2 separate regions of the Homo sapiens genome follow, and region 2 is linked to region 1. The links come from fine-mapping of genetic effects on gene expression. A gene starts in region 1. The other region holds a variant in brackets. All regions are shown on one strand. Distances are between the middles of the regions.

Region 1 (16,577 bases):
AAAGGAAGTTGATACTTATCATAGGATGTAGGATTTCAGCTCTTGTTTATTTCATAGAACCCTAGCAAATGGAAAGACTTGTGAATAGTGTACAACCCTACACTTCATAGAGCTGATTTTTAAGAGTGTATTTGTCAAACTGGATTATTCACTAAAGAAAATGTTTCTACCCCATAAGTAAATCTTTTTTGTTAGAGCTGCTGTGATTTTGTTGTAGTGTACCCTTTAATATATTAATTACTGAAGGATTTTTACCTTGTAAGCATGATATAATTATTTTCCTTAGAAAAAGGAACGCCTTTAAAATTATCTTGGAAATTTCCATTTTTCTATAATGTAATTTGTTTATGCTGGGAGACTATTTGTAAATGAGGATTGATTATCAATATTTTTTCTCAGGTAAGGGGCAGAGACTAAATTGAAAGAACTTGTTGGGTGAAATTGCTGTGTTAGTTACAAGACAGTTGTGAATAACTTGAAAACAGGTATCATGAGCACCACTTTATTTCCTGCAAATAAGAACTCTGATGACACATAGTAGGTGTTTTCTTGCTGACTTGCTTTGTCATTTTAGGTCTAATCTTTTCAGTAGCAAATTATATTTTGGTATTTTAGGCAGTAAAGGAAGGGATAAAGATTTACACATATAAACCTTAGTAGAATCTTACAACGTTTCAAACACTGGGGTGATAAAGAGAAAGCTTGCAGGAAGCTTATCATTGCCTGGAATAGAAATAATGCTATTTTTCTCAAATAATTAAGAATTAAGAAGGACTTATTAAGAAATTGCTTATGCCTAGGAGTGTGACCAAAATAGCAGTACCATAAAGAGCTGTGTACTTGAGGAGGCAAGATTAAGACCTATGAAAACATCGAATGCTAAAACAGGAAAGCCCCAGTTCAAAAAGCTTGTAAACTCCTGTCTAATATGTTCGTCCTCAGTGTTTTCCTTTGCCTGTATAAATTAGCAGCACAATTGTGCTTCCATTAACACATTAAAGCCAGTAGGTTCCATGTCAAATGTTTGTGTTTGTAGTTAAATTCAAAATGAAACAGCAAAACACTGGTCGGCCAGGTGTGGTGGCTCATGCCTGTAATCCCAGCACTTTGGGAGGCTGAGGTAGGCAGACTGCTTAAGCCCAAGAGTTCAAGACCAGCCTGGGCAACATGGTGAAACCCTGTTCTCCAAAAAAACACAAAAATTAGCTGGGCATGCTGGCATATCTATAGTCCCAGCTACTCAGGAAGCTGAGGTGAGAGGATCACCTGAGCCTGGGAGGTTGAGGCTGCAGTGAAGTGTGATTGCACCACTGCACTCCAGCCTAGGCAACAGAGTGAGATCCTGTCTCAAAACAGCAAAACAAAAACAAAAACAAAAACAAATAAAAACACTATAAAGTTCCATAAAGTCAGACAAGAGAAAATCTTGAATTCAGAAGGACGTCAGAGAAATCTCTGAACTGGTTAGGGCAAGTTTCTATGGGCAAAATCACCCCAAGGTCTATTTCAGATTCCAAATCTAATGTTCATTCAAGATCTGATCTACCCTCCCTGGGCTTGTTGAGGTTTTCGTCTTTGCCAATGGAAATTTTGCCTGGGAAAGGAGAGGAATGGAACTCAAGCTCATTGAGATGGTGGTCACTATCATAAATTTGGGAATGTTCAGGAGTAAGGGAGGATAATATCTTGCATCTACCTTGTGAGTAGGTCTTACCAGTTCTGGCCCTGAACCTAACCCTTTGAAGGGTCTCAGCTCTGAGGCTGTGAACCCCTCTGGGACCTAATAGCTTTTCTTTTCCCTTCCTAGGAAGCTGCATGCTACTGGTGCCTACTTATACATTACACAATTTCTCAGATGACTTTGTGAATCAGTTAGGCCTCTGTTTACTGTGACTGAACCTCCAAGCCATACATTGCCTTAAGCAGAAACAGGGACTTTTGGACTCATAACCAACAGAACCAGAGTAAGGCTGATTTCTGGCATAAGTGGTGAGAGGAAAGTGTTCCTTTCTCTCAACTCAGCTCTGCTCTTCTCCTTGTGTTGGCTTTATTCTTAGACAGGTTCTTCATTCATGAATACAAAATGGATGAGCAACTTTAGACTTGACATCCTTTCCTATTCAAAATCAGGAGCCAATAGTGATTTTCAGTAAAATGTTTCATTGCTTCTCAGTGGCTTCAATGGTATCCCATGTACACCTCTGAACTAATTTCCGTGGGTCATGGGAATAGTAATAAACTGATTAGCTTAAGATTGATTGGGTCACATACTCCATTCCTTTCGTTAGATTCCCACCCAAAGCATGTAAGTTTGAGTGTAGAAAAGGTGATATCTAAGAGGAAATAATAAATGCAAAAATTAGGTAACAAAATAACTGAATTTGTATACCATTATTGCTGCTGCAAGTTCTGTTCTGATTGCCAATGATTGATAATCATCAGGTAATAATTTCTTCTTTACATGGCTACCTACATAAAGCAGAGGGATGATGAGCATTCAATAACAATAGCAGCCACACAAATGCACTGTGCCTAAATATCTGATGTCCAAATATTTTTGGCCTCCAAATACTCTCAGAAAACATAGAAAGTGTATGGGTTGAAGCAGCATCCACAGTCAGCATGGGCTTATGATCATATAGGCATGTGGTTAGAGTGTTTGAATACTTTTCTATTTTGTGAATGAAGGTCTTTTTTAAAGCCAAAATTGGGCGCTATTGGTAGAGGATTCACTAAACCCTTTCTCCTTCTGCATAAGATTTTGACGTTTGGTTAACTCTGTAACTCTGTTCCCTTGAAAACAGTAAAATGTCAACCATGTTATTGGGTAACATTGGTTAGGGTAAAAATGACCCTTGGTTAGTGAAAATGACTGCCTTGGAGAAGGGGAATTTACCTGGTCTGGCCCTGACTCTGCTCTCCAAGACGGGCTGTTTGTTTACTCTGTCATAGCCCTGTTCCATTCATTATATTCCCTGGCTACATCTGAAATGGGAGATGAGGAGTAAGCCCTCCTTAGTAGCTAGTTTGAGATAACTATAAATTCTAAGAAGAAGCTGTAGTTTTGGGCTTCTCTGAGTGCAATGACTCTTGTAACCAGGTGTGTCTCTTGGAGGGATCTGGAAGTTATGCCTATGAAGTTGTTACAAAGATATTGGTTCCTGTGAGGAATGAGGTTTTCAAGGCCGGGCACTCTTGAACTTGCCTAATGTGTTCTTACCTGAGTTCTTAAACTGTCACCAGGGGGCCAGATAGAATAGCTTTGGACACTGTATAGATTGTTCCATGGATTACCACAAGACTCCAGAGAAGAGGAATGCCTGATGCTGCTCTGTTGGCAAACTCTCTGAGTAGGCTGGTGCCAAATGTTGACTGTGATAGTCTTATACACCTGAACGTTCAGTTGAGCTTCAGAAGACTCAGTGAAGGTATTGCAGACACATAGGTAAAATGCAGCCTGAAGCAAGGATCATATTCCTGATCTCATGATGTGGCAGAACTGGATAACTATGCATTTTAGCTGTTTCCTTTTCTCTCATGGCACAAAGCTAAATTCTATTTTCCAGCTTATCTTGCAATAGGTATGGCCATTTGACCAAGTTCTAACCAGTGGAATGTGGGGTGGAAGTGAAGAAGGGTACTTCCAGACCTAGCCCATGAAAACCTCCCCTATACCATCTCCCATCTTTCCTCAATTGGTCAACTTATGCCCAGGAATGTAAGGCATTAGAGGAAGGTGAAACCTCAAGAGAGAGGTCTTGAATAACCACATAGAAGGTCATCTGCAGTCAGGAATATTCAGTTAGAGTTCAAATGAATAAGACATACACAACTATATTTAGCCAGAGTAATTTAGCAGCTTAGCTGTGAAATCCATTAGTACTTCCTTAACTAACAGACACATTCCTCAGATCTACAAATTTTCTCATTGTATACCAAGAGATGCAGGCCTGCTGCATTTTCAGAAATGGCTTTAAGATTTTTTAAAACCCTAGCATGCAAACACAAGATGTATGTTTACATCATGAGTTAATGATTTGGAAATAATACTAATTTGCTTTTGAAATAATAAGAATTTGGAATACAACTTTGTCTTTGTTCATATTTTGCTGCTATAACAATATCTAACACTGAGTAATCTATATACAAAGAAGTTTATTTGTTCTGGAGGCTGGAAGTCCAAGATCAAGGGGTTGCATCTGGTGATGACCTTCTTGCTGAATCATAACATTGTGGAAGAGATCACATGGTGAGAGGGTGAGAATGCAGAGATGGAAAAAGGGGGCTGAACTCCTGCAGTCACTAAATTACTCCTATGATAGTGGTATTAGTCTATTCACGATGGCTCCACCTCTTAAGTATCATCACAAGGGCAATTAAGTTTCAACATGAGCCTATAGTTCCAGCTACTTGGGAAGCTGAGGCAGGAGGATTCATTGAGCTCAGGAGTTTGAATCCAGTCTGGGCAGCATATTGAGATGCCTCCTCTTAAACAAACAAATAAACAAACAAACAAACAAAACCAAACCCAGAAAACCAAACCCATGAATTTTGGAGGGAACACTCAAACTATAGCCAATGCCTACTTACAAATAGGAAAAAAATGACCAGGAGGAAACATTTCTATAAATGTTGCTGTCTGCAAATGATACTACCAGATTTCTGTCTTGTCAGTTCAGGATGGCAGAGAAAGATTGGAGGCAGACTGAGTTGTGCTGAAGGTGAGAGAAGTTTTATTTTTTCCTTCTTCTGCAGCCGCAGGCTGAATTGGAGGTTTAGTGGTGTTCTAGCTCATTGCTGTTTACAGTCATATTTACTATGTTGCAGATGGACACCCAATGGAACATTAGTCTATGAAAAAAGGATTCTGTGATTAAATATAAATTAGGAAAATACTGCATACTATATTTCTACAGGAGAGTCTCAATGCATATTAGCAGATTGAAAACTCTTAGAAAATCTGCAACCTATTTAATAAATGCTGATGGGAAAACTGGCTAGCTACATGCAGAAAACAGAAACCGGACCCCTTTCTTATACCTTATACAAAAATGAATTCAAGATGAATTAAAGACTTAAAACCATGAAAACCCTAGAAGAAAACCTAGGCAATACCATTCAGGACACAGGCATGGGCAAAGACTTACTGATTAAAGCACCAAAAGCAATTGCAACGAAAGCCAAAATTGATAAATGGGATCTAATCAAACTAAAGAGCTTCTGCACAGCAAAAGAAACTATCATCAGAGTGAACAGGCAACCTACAGAATGGGAGAAAATGTTTGCAGTCTACCCATCTGACAAAGGTCTAATATCCAGAATCTATAAGGGACTTAAACAAATTTACAAGAATAAAACAACCTCATCAAAAAGTGGGCAAAGGATATGAACAGACACTTCTCAAAAGAAGACATTTATGTGGCCAAAAAACATATGAAAGAAAAGCTCATCATCACTGGTCATTAGAGAAGTGCAAATCAAAACCACAATGAGATACCACCTCACGCCAGTTAGAATGGCAATTATTAAAAAGTCAGGAAACAACACATGCTGGAGAGCCTGTGGAGAAATAGGAACGCTTTTACATTGTTTTGGGGAGTGTAGATTAGTTCAACCATTGTGGAAGACAGTGTGGCGATTCCTCAAGGATCTAGAACCAGAAATAGTATTTGACCTAGCAATCCCATTACTGGGTATATACCCAAAGGATTATAAATCATTCTACTATAAAGACACATGCACATGTATGTTTATTGCAGCACTATTTACAATAGCAAAGACTTGGAACCAACCCAAATGCCCATCGATGATAGTCTGGATAAAGAAAATGTTGCACATGTACACCATGGAATACTATGCAGCCATAAAAAAGAATGAAGCTGGAAGCCATCATTCTCATCAGACTAACACAGGAACAGGAAATCAAACACTGCATGTTATCACTCATAAATGGGATTTGAACAATGAGACCACATGGACACAGGGAGGGGAACACCATACACCAGGGCCCTTCGGGGGGTTGTGGGCAAGGTGAGGGAGAGCATTAGGACAAATAGCGAATTCATGCAGGGCTTACAGCCTAGATGATGGGTTGATAGGTGCAGCAAACCACCATGGCACATGTATACCTATGTAACAAACCTGCATGTTCTGCACATGTATCCCAGGACTTAAAGTAATATAAAATAAAAAAAGAAAGTCTGCAATAAAGGAACATGTTTTTAACACTGTCACTTTATCATAAATAATGATATATAATATAATCTTGTTAGAAAATTTATATTTTATTAAATTATAATTTTATCTATAAATGGATAATTTGTTCAGAATAAACTACCCCAAAATCTTGGTGGTGTTTGTTTCTCACTCATTGCAGCCCAGTGTAGGTCAATAGGTAGTTGGGAGAGGATGGTTGAGCTCCATGCAGTCATTCAGGGACCCAGGCTCCATCCACAATGTGTGGCCATTATCTTTCTGGGCTTCAGAGTTCCACTGGATTCTTTGCATCCAGCTAGCAGGACAGGAAAACATGAAGAAGAGACACTTGGTCTTAGCCACCTTTGGAGTTGATGGTTTCCACTTCTACTTCCGTTTCATTGGTGAGTGCCATTTTGTGGGCAAGCAATTTAGCTAGTCCAGGTTGCTAAAAGTTTGACCTGGCCTCAGGTTTGATGAGCCATCCATTTCTTCCCATCAAATGATTGACTTGCTTCTGGCAAAAAAGATTAACAAGATTCTTACCATCTTGAGAAGCCATATTCAAATCTGGAACACCTGCTCCCACCCTGTCCTCTCCTCTTTATAGCATGTGGATTTCAGCTCTGGAAAGACTAATCTTGTTCTGTAATAGGTCCATGTCTCTTTATCTTCTCCAGAGACTGAAGGGTTCTTCAGAGGTATCTTAAAGAGTCAGCTTACAGCAAATGAGGTTGGAGGCAGTGGTTGAGAATGGCTCATCAGTCTGGGCTCTGGGCTTCTTATCTTGCCTCAACCAAGGCAGTCCAGCTTTGATCTGTATCATTAAAAGAAAGGTTATATTACTAATGAAAAACCTGAAAACTATGGTTATTAGCTAAATCAATCATCTCTGCAGATGAAAAACTTGAGGCCCCAAGAAGTTAATCAATTGGCCTGATATCACACAGATGCTCTAGGAGGACCTGACATTTACAGTTGGGTTTCCTGACTCTCAGATCTGTACTCTTTGTACTGGGGTAGCTGCCTGCTACTTCTCCCCTTGTGTGTGGCATGTGGTCTGAGGTCTAAGATAAAGGGAGGGAGTCAGGCTCTGCTGATGCCACAAAGGACCTAAGCAGGCAGATTCACCTCCTGCTTTTGGTCTCTTAATTCCTCTCTAGATGAAGCAAGAACAAGTCTGTCTTCCCATCTAGGGCAGGGTTGCTCTGTGCGAGGCTGATGGTGCACGCTGCTGGGATATTGGCACTTCTCAGGCATTTTATTAGCTCCTGTTTACAGAGACACTGCCTGAATTCCTTCTGCCACTCATCCCACACCGCCTATGCTGGTGGTTAACAGTGCCATTTTAAAATCTCAAGCAGGAGGAGACAACATAATTGTCTCATGTTTTAAGCTTTTGGAATGTTGTTCTTTTTCAGAGTTGTGAAGACGGAGTGGATACAGGTCAACTTGATTCTGCTTTTCTCTATCAATGGCCTGCAAATATTAAATATGCAAAACATAGGCTGCTCTGTCCATATCTCCTTCTCCCCAGTTCTCACCACATGACGTTGATTTCTGCTCAGGACTGGAAAGAAGTGATTGCTTTAGATTTGCTTTTCTTTTACCAACTGGAGAAATGCCTTACCGTGTCTTGTTTAAATGTGGCTTTTCACACAGTTCCAGCTTTTGGGGTTGGGGAGGGGCACAAATAATCTGTGTGGTAGGCAGTTTTATTGTTCAGAAAAGAAGAAAACAGACCCCAATGTTTGGAATGCCAACGATTTAGGAAGTTTCTAGCAGGTCTGCTACTTGTTCCAACCACTAGGTTTGATCCCAGAAAAGACTCACATGCGTTTTGGCCATGAGAAGGAGGGGTTCCCTGCAGGCCAAAGGAAGGGTCAGTAGAAGTTGAGGGTGGTGTGTTGTGCCCCTCTAGATTCCAAACTTCCCTTTGCTGCCTATCTGATGACCAGGTGAAAGCTGGGTTTATTCTGCATGGGAAGGTTCTGTGGGTTGGTGTTCATCAGGGAAAATAACCAGGACAGACTTCATTGGCCAAGGGTTTGCCCATGTTTTGAGAATTAAAACTTGTTTACTTGAGAGTTAGAGTCATTTGGTCAGCTGTTTATATTCCATTTTTAATTATTTTTGTGCTCGCTGTTTTGTTCTTTTGGTCTTTGACAGATGAGCAAAAATTCTTTTTAATAACTTTTAAAAAGCTATCCCAGTGCTGACCAGGGAGGAAAAAGTGATCAAATTGTCTAATAAGGAAACATTGTACATTTCAGTTTTTATTTGCTTAGTACTAATTCTATTTTCTCCTCCCACCTTTTTTTTCTAAATGTATAACAACAAAGGGGGAGATAATTTTTGTTTTTTCCAAAATGCTTTCAGGGAAATCCCTTTTAAACCTATGGATTTTAGTCCAATGAGGAATCCTCTTCCTTTGGTCTAAATTTTGCATATCGTCTGTTTCTTACAGGGCTTCCGTATTGTCTCAGGCTCCACTGGAAATGCAGCAAGGATTCCTAGCACATCCCAGTTGCCATAGCAACAGCAGTCTTTCCCATAATGAGCTGCATCATCTGAACTGATGTCACAGCATCATGCAGCAGGTCAAACAAGGCATCTCCTAGTATTGCATCCTACAGATGTGCTGTAAACATCAAAAGAAGACGGTGGGATCAGGAGATGGTGAGTGTTAAATGTCTGGGCCTTAATTGCACGGCTGTTTTGTTGGTTAGTCGGTGTCTGCTAAGGCGGAGATTGGGGGATGTTGTCTCTGCTTAAAATGGACTGGGGAAAGAAGGGCTGTTTTACCTAAATCGTTTTTCAGGCTGCCGGGTTAAGACAAAGGCCTGTAAGAGTCATATAGGAATTAAAATATGTAGAATTATTCTTGCTCCAGCTCTGTCTGTTATTTTTAAGTGTTCTTACAGAATTTTTCATAAACATAAGATGATTTTTCAATTGCAAAACCCCAGATAAGCTTTAAAATGAGTAGTTAACAGTATTTAAGCATTGTAAAAATATAGATTTCTTTTTGGGAGGCAGAGCTAATTGGCCCCCTCTTTGCTCTTGTGAATTATGAAATATTCAGTGATTTGCAGTATGAAATTCATTATTTACCTCGGTTGGGTTTCAGTTTCTTCATGGCAAGGAACAAATGCTGAATAAGCATTTGACATAACCCTGATGTGAAAGGGGATCTCTTGCATATTCAAGACAGAATTTATTAAAAGCATAAAAACCTAAACCAAATGAAATTATTTGAGCCTTTTGATCTATATGGTAGTTCTTCAACCCATGTCCTTCAGAGTTAGTTGAAAGACTGCCACATATTTTTCCATCTCTAGCTAGTCTCTGAAATAGCTGGAGTTGTTTGCAGGCTGACTTGTAACTGAGAAAGGAACAAGTCTCCTCTCTGCGGCAGTTGCAGTGAAGGGTAACCCTGGGAGAGCCTCTGAAGTGGCAGTGGTGTTGCCATCCCTTGCTTAACTTTAACAAAAATCTGGGTATGATGAATAAATATCAGGGTCCTCAGTGGTTGTAGGGATTACAGACCTCTGGACTCAGTCATAACCTCAACTCAATTCCAAAACTCTAAACACGTATCATTTTCATTTCAACTCCTAGCTCTGTTTTTAGGCATCTTTATTATTATTATTATTTTCTAAAAAATTAGTCTGACAGTGTCAGATAAGGAGCAGAATGTTGCCTTTTGTTTTGGGAAATGAAATGGATTTCCCTGGTACAGCTGATTGCTACTAGGGGAGAGAAAGGAGGAGGCACATGTCAGTTCAATTGATCAATATGTCCACTTAGAATCAGGGAGTGGTCTTGTGGCTTAATGCTGCCAAATTGATAGTTTTTACTCAAAAAGTCTTACACGAAAGAATGGCAACCATTGAATTCCTCTTCTTTTAGTCTGTTTATTGGGGCTAAAGAGATATATCATGGAAAGCAGGAAAAGCAATACCTTTAGCTAGCTTGGAGTGATTTTTTTTTTTTTTTTTTTTTTTTTTTTTTGCACAGAGTTAAGTATGCTAGTCCCATTAGGCACCAGCCAGAGGAAAGGCCTCAGGTTTTAATTTGTTTGTTTATACCACATCACGCACATGCTTGCTACTCTCAGTCCTTTAAGCTTATGTTTCTGACATGCAGCTGTATAGGATGGGAGAGGTCAGCTCAGCCTGGCTTTATCGCAAGCACTTAGAAGCATGAATTGTTCATTGCCTGCTTTTTTATGTCATATAATGTGAGCAGAAAGCTCTGCTGGGACTGCTGGGTGTGAACACATCTAAGTCGAAAGCTCTAAGGTGACAGGGAAGAGTGCTAGATGGTGATGGGGGAAGGGAAAGTATGTCTTGTAGCTAGATTATAAATCTGGATAAAATCACTTAGTGCCTTTTAGAATTTTCTTAAAGTATTATTTCTGAAGAAGAGCAATGAAGAAAGACTTGTTTGGTAACATGAATTTCTAGGAGTAAAAAAAAGCAAAAGGCAGCATTGTAATGAGTTTTCTGTTTGCTTAATTCTTGTCTCTTTTGTTTAAAGTGCTCTTCAGCTGCTTCATCATGGTTGATTTGTTCAATTACTGGAAGTCACAAAAGCTAGATTCCTTAAGGGCAGTGTTAGAAAAAGTGGAGTCATGCTTTGAGGGTGGGGAAGGGCGCTGGTGGGTGTGGACTGACGCAGTTATCTAGTGGAACATCCTCCCGGTTCAGACAACCCTGTAATTTTTCCCCCCGCAAATGTTCAAAATGCAATTACAGTTCTCCAACTTTATGCTTTTGTGCTCTTTTTGCTCCAGGAGAACAAAGCCCTGGTAATGAGAGCTATCATCCTAATGTTTTGTTTCTTCGTTTCTTTGTAGAGGGCCACAGCCTGCGCTGCTCTCTGATTAGCTGCATGTCTTAATTACTGGCTAAGGCTATTTCAGTTGTCTTAGTTTTAATATATCCCCAAGGGGTAGATGGTGTGTGTGTGTGTATAGGGGAAGGGAGAGATTTCTCTATGGCTGTATTTATTGGTGCCTCACTGAAACTTTCTACAGTTTAAGGAATTTTGTTTCACAGTAATGATAGATCATCAAGACCATGTTTATTGGACAGAGTTTAGGCCATGGAAGCCTCACAAGAAGTTAATGTCCTCTATACTTTTGGTCATGGCTTTCACAAATACATTACAAAGTTACAAAGAAGTTAATTCTTTGCCGATAACTAGGCCGCATAGGGATGATAAAAATAATAATCATAATAACAATCATAGCTATCATTTATTCAGTTCTTACTGTGTATCAGTACTGAATTAAGTTTTGTGTATATCTTATTTAGCCCTTATTATTATTATGAAGTAGAGAGTAATAATCTCACTTTATAGGATTAGGTGTTATTATTCACATTTTGCAAAAACCAGTCCTTAGCCAGGCGAATAAACTTGGCTAAGGTTATGTAGTTAATAAGTGATTGGGCCAGGATTCCAAACCATTGCGATCTGGCTATGCAGCACACATGCTTACCCACGGCCATCTCAGTTTTATGACATCTTTACTGTATATACCATACAGATCAGTCATCTATACTCTATCACACGTACCCCACCCCTCCTCATTCTAATTGGAAAATCAGATTTCATATGTAGAATGAAATGTCATTTGCAACACTAAGGTTGATTTCACTGTAAGGATGAGCATGAATCTTGATCAGATGTGAATATTTACTTTGTACCCAGAGATTTAAGTAATGAAGAGTTGATGCTTAGACTTTTGCCACTGCCCTTGCTTGATATAACTTTCTAGCAGGATCTCTGTATGGAAAATGTTACATCAATAATTGTGGGCATGATGGAGTTGCACTCAAAGCAGGTCTTACCTGAGTCAGTAATGATTCAGCTTTGTTATAAACCTGTCTTATCAGCTATATTTGTGGTGCTTTGTTAACTTTAAGATGTTTGTATTCCCTGCTGTTGCACCAGGTTCTGTTCTCAACCTGGTGTTGAGAACAGAAGCAGAAACTTCTCTCACAGTCTGGAAAGTGTAATCTGAATCTATCTCTTAGGTTAAGAAGATAGAGGATTTATTTTGCTGAATGTATCAGTGGCTGAAACCAAACTCTGTCTATCTCTGACAAAGTACAAGAATGACAGTCTTGTGTAATAACCTGGAAGCCTTGTGTTTGAGGAGAGCTGATATAGTCATTTCTGTATCATCTTGCTCATCCCCAGCTATCCACGCCCAGCGTCATTATTGGGCTCTAAGGGCTGTTCTTTGTTTGAGTGTGGGGCTAATGCACACACTGACAGCATGTTGATATTGATTCCTGTATGGTGAATACTTAGAAATATTATTCCACAGGGCTCATTAGCCTTTTCTAGGTTCCAGGAAGAAGTTAACCTTTGTCCTAACCTGCTCCAAAGAGGCCCAAGCTTGTGTCTGCATGAGGTACAGGAATGAGAGGCTGATCAGAAAGCATCAAAGCTGCTAGGTACAATGACTACAGGAGTTAGGTTCCAATTAGGAAATAAAATAGCCAGTGGAATTTAGGGAAGTTGGTGGTCTTGCTACATGTCTCTGATTTTCTTCTATTTATAATCCTAGAACCCATGAATGGCAGTTTGTTTTGATCGCATGGATTCAATTCAATTCAATAAATATTTATTGAATATCTCCTATATGCCAGGCATTGTCAGGGAATCTATAGCAATGAGCAAGACAGATGCAAATCTCTTCCCCAGCTACATTCTAGAGGGGAAGGGAAAAATGGGTAAATTGGTAAAATAATTTATTTCCTCTAATACTGCAATACTATTTCTATTTACTTTTTATTCCATGTGTTATTAGAGAAGCCCATTATCTGTGCACATTTGTATAGGTACATATAGCTATATGGTTTATATGTGGAGGTAAACTTACTGCATTAAATAATAACTTTTTTTTTTCTTGCATGGGTTTGGATTAGAATCTTTCTGGATGTGGACAAGACCAATATGGCAATTAGTATTTTTTTGGTATAAACTATTTTGAGAAATAAAATTATAATCAGTCAAATAGTGCATGTCTATCTCAGTTGACAAACTTGACATATGGAAATATGAAATGTGTGTGGCAGATCAGTTAAGGAGAGATATTTTTGTTTTTATAAAAGATATTCATCACCTTTAAAAATTGTCCAGAGAGCCCTCTAAATTGAGCATTCCAGCCAGCCTGCTGATGGAGGTATGTATCATACAAGGTACCAACTACACACTTAGTTGTACAAGGACAGGTATACCAGTTACCTTCAGTCTCATCTAATCGCCCTAGTGTGCCTTACAGTATTGCTTTAAATGGGAAGCATTTCTCGAAACAATCATATTGACTGAACTCTGTAGATGGGCCCTGAGTGTGGTTTTTCAGAGGAATAGCAATCCATATAGGACTTTGGCCATGGCAACAGAGTTTTAGGTACAGTAGCCCCTTCCGCGCCCTTATTTGTGATTTAGCCTTTTGTGGTTATGGTTATCCGTGGTCTGAAAACATTCAATGGAAGATTGCAGAAATAAACAATAAGTTTTAAATTATGCGCTGTTCTGCATAGTGCAGTGAAATCTCTCACCATTACTGTTCTGTCCTGCCTGGGATGTGTATCATTCCTTTGTCCAGCATATCCATGCTGTATATGCTACCAGCTTGTTAAGTCACTTAATAGCCGTCTTGGTTTTCAGATCAACTATCTCGCTATCATAATGCCCATGTTCAAATAACCTTTATTTTACTTAATAATGACTCCAAAGCTCAAGATTAGTGATGCTGGCATATTGTTACAATTGTTCTGTTTTATTATTAGTTATTGTTAATCTCTTATTGTGTCTAATCTATAAATTAAACTTTATCACAGGTATATATGTATAGGAAAAAACATAGTATATGTAGGGTTTGGTGCTATCCATGGTTTCAGGCATCCACTGGGGGTCTTGGAACATATTCCCTGATAATGAGGGGGACTATTGCAGTTTGAATTAATAAGGCATACAGTTTCTTCTCCACGAGCACATACCGGTCAGTAATTGAATTCCTGAGTTGGCTTTAAGATTTGGTGAAGATAAAGGACAGACTTTGTTTTCCTCATAAGCCACCAGCCATATTTTTCTCTGTTCTTCAGCCATGGGGCATGCTCCAAACTCTTCCAGCCATCTTGCAGTGGTGTGCTTTGAGTCACAAGGGTAAGTAGGGAGAGAATGTGGAACCTTTATTTTATTTTCAGATTTTTTTTTGGAGACAGGGTTTTACTCTGTTGTTCAGGCTAGATTGCAGTAGTGCAATCATTACTCCCTGCAGCCTTGAAATTCTAGGCTCAAACGATCCTCCCACTTCAGCCTCCCAAGTGGTTAGGACTGCAGGTGCACATCACCCCACCTGGCTAGTAGAGCCTTTAGAATGGGGTCTCAAACTGGCTAATACATGAGCTAAACCTAGCCTGCAGCTTGTTTTGTATGGCTGCTGGGCAGGCTTTATGGGTGTGCAACCTGTGTAGTTGCATAGGGCCCTGCACTGAGAAGGGCCCACACTTAGTTTAATACTCTGCTGTAACCATCTTGGAATTCTTAATAATTTTTTAATAAGAGGCTCCACATTTTTATTTTACAGTGGACCTTATGTAGCCAGTCCCATATGGCCCTTTTGGTGCCCCCACTGATACTGCCTGAGCCCTGTAGATGTTTGAGTTTCAGACTCCCCACTTCCTCCTACTCTGGAACAATTCAAATAGAAATTGTAGTGCTTAGAAAAACTAAGGGACCATTGTCAAAACAACCCAGAGCAAGGCCCTTGTAGATGGTAATTCAGTGGCATGCAAAGGAACTCAGTGGCATTTCTTTTATAGGCAATGGGGGATATATTACATTATACTTGAAGATATTTGGTAGGTGAGGTTTATTTGTCACCACCATTGCTTTCAGGGGAGAAATCAAATCTTCTTTGCAAAGCAAGCTAATTAACCATCCTGTTGGTTCAATGTTTATATTAATTCTCTTGCCCTTTGTTTACTACTTGATTACTTTTATCACCTGCTTTGTTTAACTCTCATTTAAATTACACAACATATTTATGCTGTCTGGGTATTTTTTTTTTTAATACTATCCTTTTCTCCTTTTTTTTTTTTTTTTTTTTTTTAATTCTCTCTCTCCAGGAGGCCAGAGGGCCTATAATTCGAGGTTATATTACTACAGGAAAAGTTCATTTTTTTTTTTCAATTTAAAAGGGAATTATAGTCAATATTTATAATGAACCCTTCTCCAGCAAGGTAGTTCCAGCCATGCTAATGTTCAGAAGTCCATATCTGCCATTACTGTTTATAATAATGAGATGCTGGTGACCAACTCCTGGACCTTATGGTGGGTGAAACATTCCCACCCATCATGTCACAGTGAGAAGTGGCTGTGTTAATCTATTAATCTACAGATTTGCAGAGAGTTGTTAGAAAATGGGTATGAATGATGGCACTTGCTGCACAGGAAAAAGGTAAGTTTTTTTTTTTTACTGTGTGAGTAAACAGGAACCTGACAAATCCAGAAAGGGCTCTTGCCACCTCTTAGAAGCCTAAGAATAGAGTCTTCTTCAAGGATCAAGCCCCAGGAATACAAGACCTTGTACCCCTGAACAATTCTGATACTCACTATGTCCATCACTGTACAAGCTGTAAAACTATCTGTTTCAGATAATTTCACCAGTAGTCAACAATTGACAAATGCATCAGATGTCTACCATGTACAATATCATATGCTAAGAGAACAAACATTTTACAAATAACGATGACTATAGGCACACACACATGTATATTACTTGGAGAACTTGACATACATTTAACATGGTGTTGGCTGGGCTGTGCATACAGATGGTCATGATTAGTTCTTCCTTTTTTCTGAACATACCTTGACATGGAGCTCCAAGCATATCTGTGGAGGCTCTCTCATCTTCTGTTCTCATCCAATTTCTTGATTTAAGTGTTTGTCTAATAACTCATTACTTTTGCTGGCCCACTCAAAATTCTTGTTTCTCAGCCCTTTCTCAGCTTTCTCCATCTTGAGTGCTCATAGTTTGTTACTACTCCACCTCGTCTCTTATCAGTGTTACCTTCTGGGACTGTTCTGAACTCATTACAGTCCTCCCCACCAGCAGCCCCTGAGGCCCTCATCTCCCTGCCACTGTTTATTCCTATTACATTAGCATAAAAGTAGCCCATGGAAAACCAAATGACACTGCAGTTTCTCTGATATGTCCCTTGGAAGAAATCCGCTTGCTTTTAGCTTTTAATAGTTAATTCAAATACTTCCTTGTATTTAATCTGTTTTTGTCTTTGTGTGAATTGAAAGGGAATGACCTTTTAAAACTCCTATTAGTCAGTCTTGCAGGCAGCCTA
Region 2 (16,577 bases), 130 kb after region 1:
CATGATTCATCAAGACTAAATTTTATACTGGCTGGTATACAAGAAAATAAGATATTTTGTTGCTTCAGTAATTTTGATATAATCAAAACTCATAAGAAGAAAACATGAGCTTCCTAATTACTACATATTCACTTAGTGAGTTGAATAATTTATTATCCTTTTTTAAAAAACCTGATCCTACTTTCAATGTTCCAGTTCCCATTTTCTGCTTCCTTCCATTTATTTTTCTTTCTGGCCTGTTCTGCAGAGTTTGCACAAAAGATATAGCTTTATTTGTATACAGCTATTTATTTCCTAGTATGTGGACTAGTATCTAGGAAACTTGCCAAATTAGCATAGTTATGCCAAAGTACAGAAACTATGTGTATAAAATGTGCACTTGGGCCTAATATTGCAGGCATTGCAGCTTTTTAGATAAAGCTGTCGTTGACTAATTTATTTCTGTATCTTCTAGTTGTCTCCTAGACACAAGTTGGTTGTTTTTGTTGTTGTTTAAACAAAACATTTAATATTTTTTATTATAAAATAACACATAAAATATCTATGTTGACTGCATTGCCCAATATGGTAGCCACTAGTTACATGTGGCTATTTAAATTTAAATAAATTATAATGAAATAAAACTGAAAAAAATGCAATTTCTTAGTCACACTAGCCACCTTTTAATAGTAGTTAGTGGCAACTGTACTGGACAGCAAAGATTTCCAAATTGTATAGAATTCTATTGGATAGTGCTGATTGATGTCTTAACCCTACTTCCTCCACCCCTTTTCTCCAAATCAAAGGTAAGTTGTGGCCATATTTCTACTTTACCAACTATAACTCTATGCTATCATTTTTCTTTTTCTTTTTCTTTTCTTTACATTTTTTTTTTTTTTTTTTTTTTTTTTTTGAGACATGGTATTGCTCTGTTGCCCAGGCTGGAGTCCAGTGGTGCAATCACGGCTCACTGCAGCCTTCACCTCTGGGGCTCCAGCAATCCTCCCACCTCAGCTTCCTAGCTGGGACTACAAGCATGCACCACCACACCCAGGTCACCATGCTTGGCTAATTTTTCTATATGTTTTGTAGAGATGGGCTTTTGCCTTGTTGCCCAGGCTGGTCTCAAACTCCTGAGCTCAAGCAATCTGCCGACCTTGGCCTCCTAAAGTGCTGGGATTACAGGTGTGGGCCACCATGCCCAGCCTATGCTATAATTTTTAACGCTGCATATTAATCCACTGCCTGGCTGTGTTTTAATATATTTTCCTAGTCTCCTATTCATGGATATATAGGTTGCTTCTGTTTTTTCCCTATTATAAAAAGTGTGGTGATTATTTTCTTTGAGAATACATCTTTGTATACTTGTCTAAAATATTTAAAATTGGAATTGCTTAGTCAGACTGGGCACAGAGGCTTATACCTGTAATTCCAGCACTTGGGGAGGCTGGTGAGGGAGAATTGCTTGAGGCCAGGAGTTTGTGACCAGCCTGGGCAAAATAGGGAGACCCTGTTTCTACAGAAAAAAAAAGAAGGAAAAGGAATTGCTTGGTCAAAGGCTATGCATGTTTTACATTTTAGTACATGTTGTTGAACTGTGCTCCAGAGACCATATTAATAAACAATTCCTTGGTTGATTGTGAATATTCTTATGTACTGGGGCAAGTGACTGAAATTCTCTAAGTCTCATTTAATTTTTCTGTTCAAAATAGGAATAATAGTATCTACCATTTACCTTACTAGGTAGCTGTGAGATACAAATTAAATAATACATGTAAATACTTTTAAAAAATGAAAGTGCTACTGTCACGTATAGTATTCATACTATGAAGCCATCCGTTGTTGGAAGGATGAAAGTCAGAGACCCTGAATCCTCTGTGATCTTAGTTTAACACTCAAAATAAGGAATGGTGGTAACATGAGCTTTAAAGACTTCCTCATGGGAAAGAGAATCCTAGCTTCAGAAACATAATTTATTATTGTAGACATAAGCACACCAATATGAATGTAGGATTTTCCATTCAAGGACATTTAGAGAAGTGGGATAATTTTTGTTTTAATCTGAGAATTGGGTAACATATCATCCAGCTCCACTCCTCATTCTACAGATGAGAAAGCAGAGGCCCCGAGAAGTTGAATTCTCATGTTCAAACTGCTGACATGTGGCAGAATCTAGGTTAGACCTCAGCCCTCTGACCCTCTATCCAGCGTCCTTTCCTCTATATCCCACAGCTCTAATGATATAGTCACGAGGTGGCGGGATTTTTTCTCTATCCCTCAGATGAAAATTAAGCCAGTGTTGTAATCTAGTTTGATAACTATTAGTTATCTAGAAGTGTATTCTTAAAATCAATGCCTGTATAGGCTTACTGGGCTATTTGAAAGTCAGGCTACTAAATTCTTATTAGCCACTTGAAATTCCTGTGGAGATAATAGAATTTTTCTTTTCTTTTTTTTTTTTTTTTTTTTTTTTTTTTTTTTTTTTTTTGAGACGGAGTCTCGTTCTGTCGCCCAGGCGGGAGTGCAGTGGCGCGATCTCCGCTCACTGCAAGCTCCGCCTCCCGGGTTCACGCCATTCTCCTGCCTCAGCCTCCCGAGTAGCTGGGACTACAGGCGCCCGCCACTGCGCCCGGCTAATTTTTTTGTATTTTTAGTAGAGACGGGGTTTCACCGTGGTCTCGATCTCCTGACCTCATGATCCGCCCGCCTCGGCCTCCCAAAGTGCTGGGATTACAGGCGTGAGCCACTGCGCCCGGCCGAATTTTTCAAACTGACTCTTTAAGCCAAATTAGAAATAAAATCTTTTTCTCATGAATGGCATCCAAGTTAGACAGCATTCCTTAGAAGTGAATTATTTGGTAAAGCTCTCAGAGTCTGTCTGTCTTTGGCTCATCTCTGAACTTTAGTTCATTTCATTTTATGACTTTACATGAAGAAACCATGAGTACGGATGGCCTCAAGTTATGCAGGAGATTTCAGTCAGCCTGCAAAACAAACCAGATGGCCAAGTCCTCTCAGAACTGTCTGAACATGTCTCAAAGTCCATTCCCTGAATCTATCCCCAGGTACCTTCCTCAGGATCTCTCTTTTCACTGGCATTTTAAAAAATATATCTGATAGAAGCTAGCAATAAATAACTAAGAGAAATTGAGATTGATGGCCCTTTTATTTCTTTGCATCTAGGTCTTGTATGAAGCAGCAGAGCTTTTATATTTAGAAAGGGAACACCCCCTTCAGCGAGTCATGTGCTAGAACACAACCGATGAGAATGCTTGTCCTTCTATAGCAAGGCTCGCAAGGTTTCTGGGCAGAGCTCAGCTTCTCATGTGGCCATGCCTGACTCCCGTGCCACAAGGCTTTACATGCAAAGCAGTAGTTGGTCTTGCACTTGCTAATGTTTTCAACTATGAAACAGTAGAAAATGAGGTCACATGAGGCAAGGACTAATGCTGGAGCAGACCAGCAGGAAGATAAATTACAGTGAAAACTTGACCTTCCTTCCTTCCTTCCCTCCCTCCCTCCTTCCCTCTCTCCTTCCCTCCTTCCCTCCTTCCCTCCTTCCCTCCCTCCCTCCCTCCCTCCTTCCCTCCTTCTCTCCTTCCCTCCTTCCCTCCCTCCCTCCTTCCCTCCCTCCCTCCCTCCTTCCCTCCTTCCCTCCCTCCCTCCTTCCCTCCCTCCCTCCCTCCCTCCCTCCTTCCCTCCTTCTCTCCTTCCCTCCCTCCCTCCTTCCCTCCCTCCCTCCCTCCCTCCCTCCTTCCCTCCCTCCTTCCCTCCTTCTCTCCTTCCCTCCTTCTCTCCTTCCCTGCTTTCTCTCTTCCTCTCTTCCTCTGTTTCTCCCTTTCTCCCTTTCTTCCTTTCATTCTGGGTCTTGCTTTTTCACCCAGACCAGAATGTGGTAGCATGACCATGGCTCATTGCAGCTTCAACCTCCTGGGCTCAAGCTATCCTCCCACCTCAGCCTCCTGAGTAGCTGGGACTACAGGTGTGGGCCACCACACCCAGCTATTTTTGTTTCAATTAAAAAACAATTTTTTTTTTTAGAGATGGGCCTCACTATGTTGCCCAGGCTGGTCTCAAGCAATCCTTCCACCTTGGCCTCCCAAAGTGCTGGGATTACAAGTGTGAGCCACCATGCCTGGCCAAAAACTTGATTTGTATGTGATATGAAAATATGCAGATAATACACATATTTAGGTCTTTAAAGAGTTTTGCTTTTTAAATTTCAGATTTCTCTTTTGCTATATATAAATAGGCATATAATTTTAGATTTGAAATGAGTAAGATTATTTTCCCCAATGTAAGTGCTTCTTTATGTTAAATTGTTTTCTTTCTTTTATTCATTTAAAAATTGGGTTGTCTATTTTTCTTGAACATGCAGCAATTAGATAGTGTGATGATTTGGATGTGAGAATTATCCATTGGAATACTGTCTCAGTGTATTTGCCAAATTGTCATCAAGCATAATTTACTCAAAATCCTGAGATTCTTCCTTGAAAATTAATTTGAAAATAAATTTGCTTGCCCTCTCCTCTTTTGAAGCAAAATTGGTTCACTTTAAAATTTTCTTTTGTGATGTTGTTGCTAGGGGAACAATATGGTAAACCTTGTAATCTCTGTCCTCTTTATTTTCTTTAGATCTACTCTGATCTGTTTTTATCAGTTCTGTCCTATTTTAAAATTATATAACACTTGTAACCTGCCCCCAACCTACTTTGGAAGTACTGAAGTATAAATCCTAAACAAATGACTGAATTTACTGACTATGCATCTGCCTAGATAAATGGGTTGGGGGTAAAGGTGATTCACCAAAGAAGGACATTCTGGAGTGGCTGCTTTGATTAGAAGAAGGGATTTTATTGTAATCTTAACCTGGTGATTTTTTTAAGAGCTGAAGATTTTATTTGTTTCTGTTTTTTTTCGGTGGTAGAGGAGCATATGTAGTAAAGGACAGATATATATGCATTTCAAAAATTTAGAAATGGCTAGACTTAATAAATACATGAGTATAGTTGATTATAAAGCAGAAACAGTAATAGTGCTAATACCGATGGGATCCATGGAAATTGGCCTAAATGTTTTCACGGTGTCTTATATGAAAAGCAACATTCACCATGGTTTAATTTTAATGCTGAGCAGTCTTATACTACTTTCAATGTCATTAGTGCCATCTTACTTAATTTGTCAAATCTTTCAAAATGAAGAAAAAATAGAAATATTGTCTTTAGGCCACAGAAATATAGTTTAATTTTGACTTCAAAAAAACCAAAGAGATCAAAATCTTTTTACAAAAACCAAAATACAAGCACAAAGCTATAATACTATTTAAACAAATCACCAAATACAACTGTTTTCAGAAGTAAACATGCAAAATTTTTTGTTTTATTATCAAATAACAAAAATATTTAGCTGATGACAAGTCTTTTAAAGTGAATTATGCTATCAAATTGAAATTTTTGTGGATGTGTAATCTAAGTCAATCAAGTACATGTTATCATTCGATAATGGTTTGTCAAATGGCTGGGTCAAAATATCTGTCTCAAAATAGGTACCTTAAATTATCATGTATCTGTGGTTGGCAGGTAGGACTGGTCGTGACCAGAGTCAGAGAAGAGGATCTTGTCCAAGGACCCCAAATATAACTCTTAATGGACGTGCTGTTTCTTTTGTGCTAATAATTTTATGCATTTTTAATCAAAGGAAGATACTAACTTACCCAAGAGGAGGGAATTACATGCATTAGGAGAAATAATTTATATGAAAAAATCAATGATCTTCAACTTATGATGTTGAAATAAATGGTAGTCTTCAAAATACTTTTAAAACTTCAAAATATGGGATGGAAATTATAAATTTAGCCAAGATGTAACTTCATAGACAGACTTTTTTTATTGCCCTCTGTCTGAAATTATATCAAATCCACAAGGTAGCTAGCATCTCTTATATCATATTAGTCAGGGAACTCTGAGCAGCAGTTAAATGTGTCACTGATTAAATGGAAAAAAACAAATCATTTCTGAATAAATTTAATTTGTTGAACAGGCACAATAGACGTTTCTTGGTGAAGACAAGGCTGGACTACTACTGAGTGGTATCTACTGAGTAGGGCCTGAGGAAATCCAATATAGAAAAGGTAGATATTGATCAAGTGGGAAAGGGGGAAAGGCTGAAGCTCCCTTGGCAATGGACATTTTTAGCAGTATCAGGTAAGGTCTTGAGGATTCTGAACCCTATTACATCTTCTTCACTGTTTGGCTTCAAATGGCCCTGGTGTGGAATAGAGGTAACTCAGAATTAGAAACTTGCCTTGGGTAACTGAGAGTTCTTAATATAACAAATATGGTGAGAGTATTCCCTCTCCCATCATACCCAGTAATGTGCTAGGGGAGGCTGAACTAAAAAAAAATCTTAACCTTCTTGTTAATTAAAGGGTCAACTTTAGAACTTCAACACAGTACTAGATGAGAGAGCAAAACCAAACAGAATGATGACCACGCTGGAAATTCCTCCCTGTGTGCTGCTGGCGCTGACATCCTGATAGAGTTCAGGCGCCTGGTGAAGCTACACAGAC[G/A]GTGCCTGGTCTCCAGACCACATGCTTTTCATCTACGTCATAAACATGAAATTTCTGAATTGTTCCATTGGCATTTTCATCTCTGTTTAGATAGAGATGTTATAAACTTTAGTTATATAATTGGGACCCATATCATGCCAAAGTAAAAAATTTAAACATTTCCATTCACTTGCCTGAGACCTCCTTCTCCTAATTTTGCAAAGCTGACTTGGTCATTTCAGTAACTCACAATTATTTACTCTGACATTTTGGGATTACATCAGACATTCTATGGTACAGTTATTTTCCAATGACCAAAGTCATATCTTATTCTATCTGCCTACTTGATAGCAAGTTAGTGTGAGTGAAAAGCCTTGGCAAATACATATAAGTATATAAAAGAAAGTTAATTTGTTTAGGATGGAAATTCTTTTACCACCCTAGAACTGCATTAGCATCATAATTATTTCAAATTTGCTTTCATTTTTAAGAAGGGTGCCCAAAGTAAAGTCTACTTAGAAAAAACAATTTTTTAGATTAAGATAATGATCATTTTTCTAATTATGTACATCTTTAATATATGCTCCAATAACTATGAGCTGAGAGTTGTAATGTTGTCTCCCTATAAACTTGAAGAAGCTTTTAACTTCTGGTATGTTGTTTTTTTCTTCAGTAAAGTAAGGATAAATACTGACTTCAAAAAATTCATGAGTGGTAATGATGTTACCTAATTTTTGCAGATGACAGAAGCTGTATAATTATATATGTTGCTGATGCTATACTTAGTTTTATATATTCTTAGGAAGTTTTCCTATATTATTTGTAATTGTAAATGTCGCTGAAAGTATTATTAGTAGTCACAATAGGAATGAAGAAAATGAACAACATAAAGAGTTGATTACCATACAAAGTTATTATTTTTTACAAAAGAGGTTAAGGAGCAGAATAACATCTTTGCAGACAATAAAAGCATGCCAGAAATAAATGCCCACAAAATAAATGAAAATGATACCTAATATTTCCAACTGAGCCAAAAACAATTGAGAAAATGATAGAAGCTATGAAATAAAAACATGAATCAGAATTTTAAAAACTCAGAAATATGATAATTGAAGAGAAGGAAGATTTTAACAGAGAGGTAAAGTCAGGAAAGAATTAGAAATAAAAGGAAAAAAGAATTTCAGGAATGAAGACTATGCTAGAAGGAAGGAATGCAAGGACAAAATAATGCAACAGATATTAGTTTAAGAAAAACAAAGTATGGGTGGGAGGAAAGACATTCGTAATAGCCCCAAACTAGAAACAACCCAGATATCCATCGATTGGTGAAAAGATAGAGAAAATGTTATTAATAAAGGAACACTACTTGGCAATAAAAATAATTGAACTACTTATACATACAACAATATTAATCTCAAAAGCATTATGCTACATGAAATAAGTCGGATATAAGAAAGACTATGTGCTGTGGAGTTCAATTAGATGACATTCTAAAAGATGGCAAAACATAGGAACAAAATACAGATCAGTGGTTGCTAGAGATTGAATTATGTATATGTGGGTAAGGGGGAGGCAATTGACTGCAAAGGGGCATGAGATAACTTTTTGGGGCAATGAAAATGTTCTAGAGTTTGGTCATACAGCTGTTTATGAATATTTGCCAAACTATACTTATAAATGATGAACTCTATTGTATGTTTACTACAATTCAGTAAAAAAATAAATAATAAAGGGATAAGGTTTTGAGAAAAAGTGATAGATACAGACAGATTGCTAAGAGTATTCAACACATACATAATAGAAATCTCAAAGAAAGAAAACAAAAACAGTGGAATAGAACCAATATTAACATCTTCACTTCCCTGAAATAAGATTTAAATGATTTAAAATTTCTTATTGGAAAGGCATACATATAAGAAAAAAAATCTACCTAGAAAAGTAAAAATCACTGGATTACAAAAAGGAAAAAAAAAAAAAGAAGAAAAAATTCAGTGGTCATCCAGTCTTAACAGCCAAGTCATTAATAAGAAAAAAGAATATCAAATTGTCACCGAAATTTGTCAACTGATTTTTTTTTTTCAGAAGACAGTGGAGTAACGTATTTAGGATACTCAGGGATGGAAAATGGGAGCTAAGGGTTTAGCCACATAGAACTTCAGGTATAAAGGCCACAGACAAACTTGCAAGAAATAAGGACATATTTTTCCCATAAATAGTTACTGCGGAATCTCCTGGAGAATATATGTTAGGTAATCAGAATGATGGGAGAAATATCCATGTAAGGACTGCTGGCAGTGATTGGCTGCTCAAAAAACATAAAAATAAAGACAACCATACAACTCTTGACAAAACCATACAACACCATCAATAAATTAGTCTTGCCAAAAAAGAAAGGAAAAATACAACTTAATATAATCAAGCCTTTAGATCTAACTGTCAATTTCCAGGAGAATTGGACAGAGAGAGAGGGGAATGTGAATTAGTGAATTAGATAAATAATATCATGGGGCTGCAATCAGCAAACCCCAGGCTGTGTGAAACTCTACAGGACAAACAACCCTGTTTCTTCAACAAAATTTCCAGGATAGAGAGGGAGACAGAGAGAGAGGAAAGGTACAGATTAAAAGAGATATAAGAGATATATTAACTGGCCAAGATGGCTGAATAGCAACAGAAAGCAGGTGATTTCTCCATTTCCAACTGAGTTACCCATTTGATCTCACTGGGGCTGGTTAGGTAGTGGGTCCAACCCACAGAGGGTGAGCAGAAGCAGGGTGGGGCGTTGCTTCACCCGGGAAGTGCAAGGAGATGTGGGGACCTCCCTCCCCCAGCCAAGAGAAGCCTTGAGGGACTGTGCTACCTGTCCAGTTACTATGCTTTTCCCACGGTGTTTGTAATCTGCAGATCAGGAGATTCCCTCGAGTGCCCACATCACCAGGGCCCTGGGTTTCAAGCACAAAACTGGGCAGCTGTTTGGGCAGACACCAAGCTAGCTGCAGGAGTTTTTTTCATACCCCATGGGTGCCTGGAATGCCTGAGAGACAGAACAGCTCACTCCCCTGGAAAGGGGGTTGAAGCCAAGGAGCCAAGTGGTCTTGCTCAGCGGGCCCCACTCCCATGGAGCCCAGCAAGCTAAGAACCACTGGCTTGAAATTCTTGCTGCCAGCACAGCAGTCTGAGGTCAGTCTGGGACTACCAAGCTTAGTGTGGGGAGGGGCATCCACCATTACTGAGGCTTTAGTAGGCAGTTTTCCCCTGACAGTGCTAAGGAGGCTGGGAGGTCTGGACTGGGCGGAACTCACCACAGTGCAGCAAAGTAGCTGTGGCCAGACCTTTTCTCTAAATTCCTCCTCACTGGGCAGGGCATCTCTGAAGGTAACAGCCCCAGTCACGGGCTTACAGACAAAACCTCCATGTCCCTGGGACAGAGCACCTGGGGGAAGGGGCAGCTGTGGTTGCTGCTTCAGCAGGTTTAGTTGTTCCTGCCTGTTCTCTGAAATGAGCAGCTGATCCTGACAAGAGGGATTCTCCCAGCACAGCCCACCATCTCTGCTAAGGGACAGACTGCCTCCTCATGTTGGTCCCTGACCCCCGTGCCTCCTGATGGGGAGACACCTCCCAACAGGGGTCAAAGACACCTCATTCAGGAGAGCTCGGGCTAACATCAGGCCAGTGCCCCTCTGGGACGAAGCTTCCAGAGGAAGGAGCAGGCAGCAATCTTTGCTGTTCTGCAGTCTCCACTGTGATACACAGGTACACAGGGTCTGGAGTGGACCTCTAGCAAACTGTAGCAGACCTGCAGAAGAGGAGCCTGGCTGTTAGAAGAAAAACTAACAAACAGAAAGCAACAACAACATCAACATCAACATAAAGGACCCCCACACAAAAACTCCATCTAAAGGCCATCAGCCTCAAAGATCAAAGGTAGATAAATCCACAGAGATCAGGAAAAACCAGTGCAAAAACCCTGAAAATTCCAAAAACCAGAATGCCTCTTCTCCTCCAAATGATTGCAACTCCTCTTGAGCAAGGGCACAAAACTAAATGGAGAATGAGATTGACAAATTGACAGAAGTAGGCTTCAGAAGGTGGGTAATAATGAACTCCTCTGAGCTAAAGGAGGATGTTATAATGCAATGCAAGGAAGCTAAGAACCTTGAATAGAGGTTATATAAACTGCTAACTAGAATAACTACTTTAGAGAGGAACATAAATGACTTGATGGAGCTGAAAACACAGCATGAGAACTTCGTGAAGCATACACAAGTATCAATAGCCAAATCAATCAAGCAGAAGAAAGGATATCAGAGATTGAAGATCAACTTACTGAATAAGGTGTGAAGACAAGATTAGAGGAAAAAGAATGAAAAGGAATGAACAAAGCCTTCAAGAAATATGGGACTATGTGAAAAGACCAAACCTATGATTGATTGGTGTACCTGAAAGTGGCAGGGAGAATGGAACCAAGTTGGAAAACACACTTCAGGATATTATCCAGGAGAGCTTCCCCACCCTAGCAAGACAGGCCCACATTCAAATTCAGGAAATACAGAGAATACCACTAAGATACTCCTTGAGAAGAGCAACCCCAAGACACATAATCGTCAGATTTTCCAAGGTTGTAATGAAGGAAAAAATATTAAGGGTAGCCAGAGAGAAAGGTCAGGTTACCTACAAAGGGAAGCTCATCAGACTAACAGCAGATCCCTCTGCAGAAACCCTGTGAGCCAGAAGAGAGTGGGGGCCAATATTCAACATTCATAAAGAAAATTTTCAACCTAGAATTTCACACCCAGCCAAATTAAGCTTCATAAGCAAAGGAGAAATAAAATTCTTTATAGACAGCAAATGTGGAGGGATTTTGTCACCACAAGGCCTGCCTTATAAGAGCTCCTCAAGGAAGCACTGAATATGGAAAGGAAAAACCAGTACCAGCCACTGCAAAAACACACCAAAATATAAAGACCAATTACACTACGAAGAAACTGCATCAACTAATATGCAAAATAACCAGCTAGCGTCATGATGACAGGATCAAATTCACACATAACAATATTTACCTTAAATGTAAATGGGCTAAATGCCCCAATTAAAAGACACAGACTAACCAATTGGATAGAGCCAAGACCTATTGGTGTGCTGCATTCAAGAGACCCATCTCACGTGCAAAAACACACATAGGCTCAAAATAAAGGTATGGAGGAATATTTACCAAGCAAATGGAAAGCAAAAAAAAAAAAAAAAAAAAAAAAACCCGGGGTTGCAATCCTAATCTCTGATAAAACAGTCTTTAAGCCAACAAAGATTAAAAAAAAAAAAAAAGACAAAGAAAGGCATTACATAATGGTAAAGGGATCAATGCAAGAAGAAGAGGTAACTATGCTAAACATATATGCACCCAATACAGCAGCACCCAGATTTATAAAACAAGTTTTTAGAGACTGACAAAGAGACTTAGACTCCCACACAGTAATAGTGGGAGAGTTTAACACCTCACTGTCGATATTAAATGATCACCAAGACAGAAAATTAATAAGGATATTCAGGGCTTGAACTCAGCTCTGGACTAAGCAGACCTAACAGACATCCACAGAACTCTCCACCCCAAATCAACAGAATATACATTCTTCTCAGTGCCACATAGCACTTATTCTAAAATCAACCGCATAACTGGAAGTAAAACACTCCTCACCAAATGCAAAATAATGGAAATCATAACAAACAGTCTCTCAGACCACAGTGAAATCAAATTAGAGCTCAGGATTAAGAATCTCACTCAAAACTGCACAACTACGTCGAAACTGAACAACCTGCTCCTGAATGTTTACGGGGTAAAGAGTGAAATTAAGGCAGAAATAAATAAGTTCTTTGAAACCAATGAGAACAAAGAGACAGTGTACCAGAATCTCTGGGCCACATCTAAAGCAGTGTTTAGAGGGAAATTTATAGCACTAAATGCCCACAGGATAAGGCAGGAAAGATCTAAAATCAACACCCTAACATCACAATAAAAGAACTAGAGAAGCAAGAACAAATTCCAAACCTAGAAGAAGACAAGAAATAACTAAATCAGAGCAGAACTGAAGGAGATAGAGACACAAAAACCCTTCAAAAAATCGATGAACCCAGGAGCTGGTTTTTTGAAAACATTAACAAAATACATAGACTGCTAGCAAGACTAATAAAGAAGGAAACAGAGAAGAATCAAATAGACACAATAAAAAATGATAAAGGGGATATAACCACTGATCCCACAGAAATACAAACTACCATCAGAGAATACTATAAACACCTCAACACAAATGAACTAGAAGATCTAGAAGAAATGGATAAATTCCTGTACACATTCATCCTCTCAAGACTAAACGAGGAAGAAGTCAAATCCCTGAATAGACCAATAACAAGTTCTGAAATTGAGACAGTAATTAATAGCCTACCAACCAAAAAAAGCCCAGGACCAGATGGATACACAGCCGAATTCTACCAGCAGTACAAAGAGGAGCTGGTATCATTCCTTCTGAAACTATTCCAAACAATAGAAAAAGAGGGAATCCTCGCTAACTCATTTTATGAGGCCAGCATCATCCTGATACCAAAGCCTGGCAGGGACACAACAAAAAAAGAGAATTTCAGGCCAATAACCCTGATGAACATTGACGTGAAAATCCTCAATAAAAATACTGGCAAACTGAATCCAGTAGCACATCAAAAAGCTTATCCACCACAATCAAGTTGGCTTCATCCCTGGGATGCAAGGCTTGTTCAACATATGCAAATCAATAAATGTAATCCATCACATAAACAGATCCAATGACAAAAACCACATGATTATCTCAATAGATGCAGAAAAGGCCTTTGATAAAATTCAACATCCCTTCATGCTAAAAACTCTCAATAAACTAGGTATTGATGGAACATATCTCAAAATAATAAGAGCTATTTATGACAAACCCGTAACCAACATCATACTGAATGGGCAAAAGCTGGAAACATCCCATTTGAAAACCGGCACAAGACAAGGATGCCCTTTCTCACCACTCCTATTCAACATAGCACTGGAAGTTCTGGTCAGGGCAATCAGGCAAGAGAAAGAAATAAAGGGTATTCAATTAGGAAATGAGGAAGTCAAATTGTCTCTATTTGCAAATGACATGATTGTATATTTAGAAAACCCCATTGTCTCAGCGCAGAAACTCCTTAAGCTGTTAAGTAACTTCAGCAGACTCAGGATACAAAATCAATGTGCAAAATCACAAGCATTCCTATACATCAACAATAGACAAACAGTCAAATCACGAGTGAACTCCCATTCACAACTGCTACAAAGAGAATAAAATACCAAGAAATAAAACTTACAAGGGATGCGAAGGACCTCTTCAAGGAGAACTACAAACCACTGCTCAAGGAAACAAGATAGGACACAAACAAATGGAAAAACTTTCCATGCTCACGGATAGGAAGAATCAATATCATGAAAATGGCCATACTGCCCAAAGTAATTTAAATATTCAGTGCTATTCCCATCAAGCTACCATGTCTTTCTTTGCAGAATTAGAAAAAACTACTTTAAATTTCATAGGGAACCAAAAAAGAGCCCGCACAGCCAAGACAATTCCAAGCAAAAAGAACAAAGCTGTAGGCATGATGCTACCTGACTTCAAACTATACTACAAGGGTACAGTAACCAAAACAGCGTGGTACTGGTACCAAAACAGATATATAGACCAATGGAACAGAACAGAGACCTCAGAAATAACACCACACATCTACAACCAACTGATCTTCGACAAACCTGACAAAAACAAGCAATGGGGCAAGGATTCCCTATTTAATAAATAATGTTGGGAAAACTGGCTAGCCATATGTAGAAACCTGACACTGGACCCCTTCCTTACACCTCATACAAAAATTAACTCAAGATGGATTAAGATATAAATGTAAGACCTAAAACCATAAAAACCCTAGAAGAAAACCTAGGCATTCAGAACATAGGCTTGGGCAAAGACTTCATGACTAAAACACAAAAAGCAATTGCAACAAAAGCCAAAATTGACAAATGGGATCTAATCAAACTAAAGAGCTTCTGCACGCAAAAGAAATTATCATCAGCATGAACAGGCGACCTAAGAATGGGAGAAAATTTTTGCAATCTATCCATCTGACAAAGGGTTGATATCCAGAATCTACAGGGAACTTAAACAAATTTACAAGAAAAAAACAACCTCATCAAAATGTGGGAGAAGGATATGAACAGACACTTCTCAAAAGAAGACATTTATGCAGCCAACAAACATATGAAAAAAGCTCATCATCATTGGTCATTACAGAAATGCAAATCAAAACCGTAATGAGATACCACCTCACACCAGTTAGAATGGCGATCATTAAAAAGTCAGGAAACAACAGATGCTGGCGAGGCTGTGGAGAAATAGGAATGCTTTTATCCTGTTGGTGGGAGTGTAAATTATTTCAGCCATTGTGGAAGACAGTGTGGGGATTCCTCAAGGATCTAGAACCAGAAATACTATTTGACCCAACAGTCCCATTACTGGGTAAATACCCAAAGGATTATAAATCATTCTTGTATAGAGATGCATGCACATGTATGTTTACTGCAGCACTATTTACAATAGCAAAGACTTGGAACCAACCCAAATGCTCATCAGTGATAGGCTGGATAAAGAATATGTGGCACATGTACACCATGGAATACTATGCAGCCATAAAAAAGAATGAGTTCATGTCCTTTGCAGGGACATGGATGAAGCTGGAAGCCATCATTCTCAGCAAACTAACGCAGGAACAGAAAACCAAACACTGCATGTTCTCACACATAAGTGGGAGTTGAACAGTGAGAAACATGGACACAGGGAGGGAAACGTCACACACCAGAGCCTGTTGGGGGGTGGGGGACAAAGGGAGGGAGAGCATTAGGACCAATACCTAATGCATGCGGGGCTTAAAACCTAGATGACGGGTTGATACATGCAGCAAACCACCATGGCCCATGTATACCTATGTAACAAACCTGCACGTTCTGCACATGTATCCTAGAACTTAAAGTTCAAAAAAAAAAAAAAAGAGATATATTAACCAATCGATGTGTAGACCCTTTTTGGATCCTGATTCAAAATATAAGCTGTAAAAACAAGATTATATATATATATATATATTTTCTTTCTTAGCAAGACTAATTCATTAATATATATGTATATATATAAAAACAAAACAATTGAGGAAATATATACATATATTGGACATTTGATAATATAAAGGTATTAATTTTTATGGAAGTATAATAATGGTATTGTGGTTGTATTTGAAAAGAGTATACATGGACACAGATGAAAACAATAGACACCAGAGCCTACTTGAGGTGAAGAGTGGGAGGAGGGTACGGATGGAAAAACTACCTGTTGGTTACTCTGATCATTACCTCGGTGACGAGACAATTTTTTCACCAAACTCCTGTGACACACAATTTACCCATGTAACAAAACTGCACATGAACCCCCGAACCTAAAATAAAAGTTGGAAGGAAAAAAAAACAAAAACAAAAAGAAGAGTTCTTATCTTTTAGCAATATGTACTGAAATATTATTTAAACAGAATGTTAGGATGCTTAGGATTTGCTTCAAATTAATTTGAGGTTGGGGGAGTGGGTAGGAACAAACAAGATTGGACAACAGTTAATACCTGTTATTGCTGGGTGTTGGGTACATGGGAGTTCATTATCCTCTTCTTTCTGTTTTTGTATGTTTTAAAATTTCCATAATAAAAAGTTTTAAAAATGGAATGACTACCATTTATATAAAGATTTTCACAAACCTGTAGTGAAGCATTATTACTCTCTTGGACAAGAAACAGAATCTTAGAGAGGTGATGATTTGCCCCAGGACATGGAACTAAATTGTCAGAATCAGGAATCCAGTCTGGATCCTCGGACACTATCTTGTCTCTGCTTGTCTATAAACCATGCTGTCTTAAAAAGCAGGATGGTTCTTTTCTTTGGTTGTTTGGATAACTCTTCCCTGTCCTCTGATCTTCAGTG

Which allele goes with the higher level. Alleles are on the strand shown, and positions count from the first base shown. SD is a standard deviation of normalised expression in the study named.
For the expression in lung of the gene that starts at base 8,764 in region 1, allele A in region 2 goes with a lower level than allele G (small effect, 0.37 SD a copy in GTEx).

The links. PIP is the estimated chance that this variant, and not a neighbour inherited with it, causes the effect.
Region 2: its variant is fine-mapped to the expression of AKAP6 in lung (TOPMed, PIP above 0.99).

The regions. Positions count from the first base shown.
Region 1 is chr14:32,320,535-32,337,111 of GRCh38, forward strand. AKAP6 (A-kinase anchoring protein 6) reads left to right here and starts at 8,764. Exons shown (of 14, transcript NM_004274.5): 1 at 8,764-8,874. RefSeq lists an enhancer at 10,729-11,023.
Region 2 is chr14:32,451,148-32,467,724 of GRCh38, forward strand. All of the region lies in intron 2 of AKAP6 (A-kinase anchoring protein 6), which reads left to right. Among named protein-coding and RNA genes, the nearest start is that of AKAP6, 130 kb to the left of the region's middle. The variant G/A (reference allele first, on the strand shown) is at 6,548.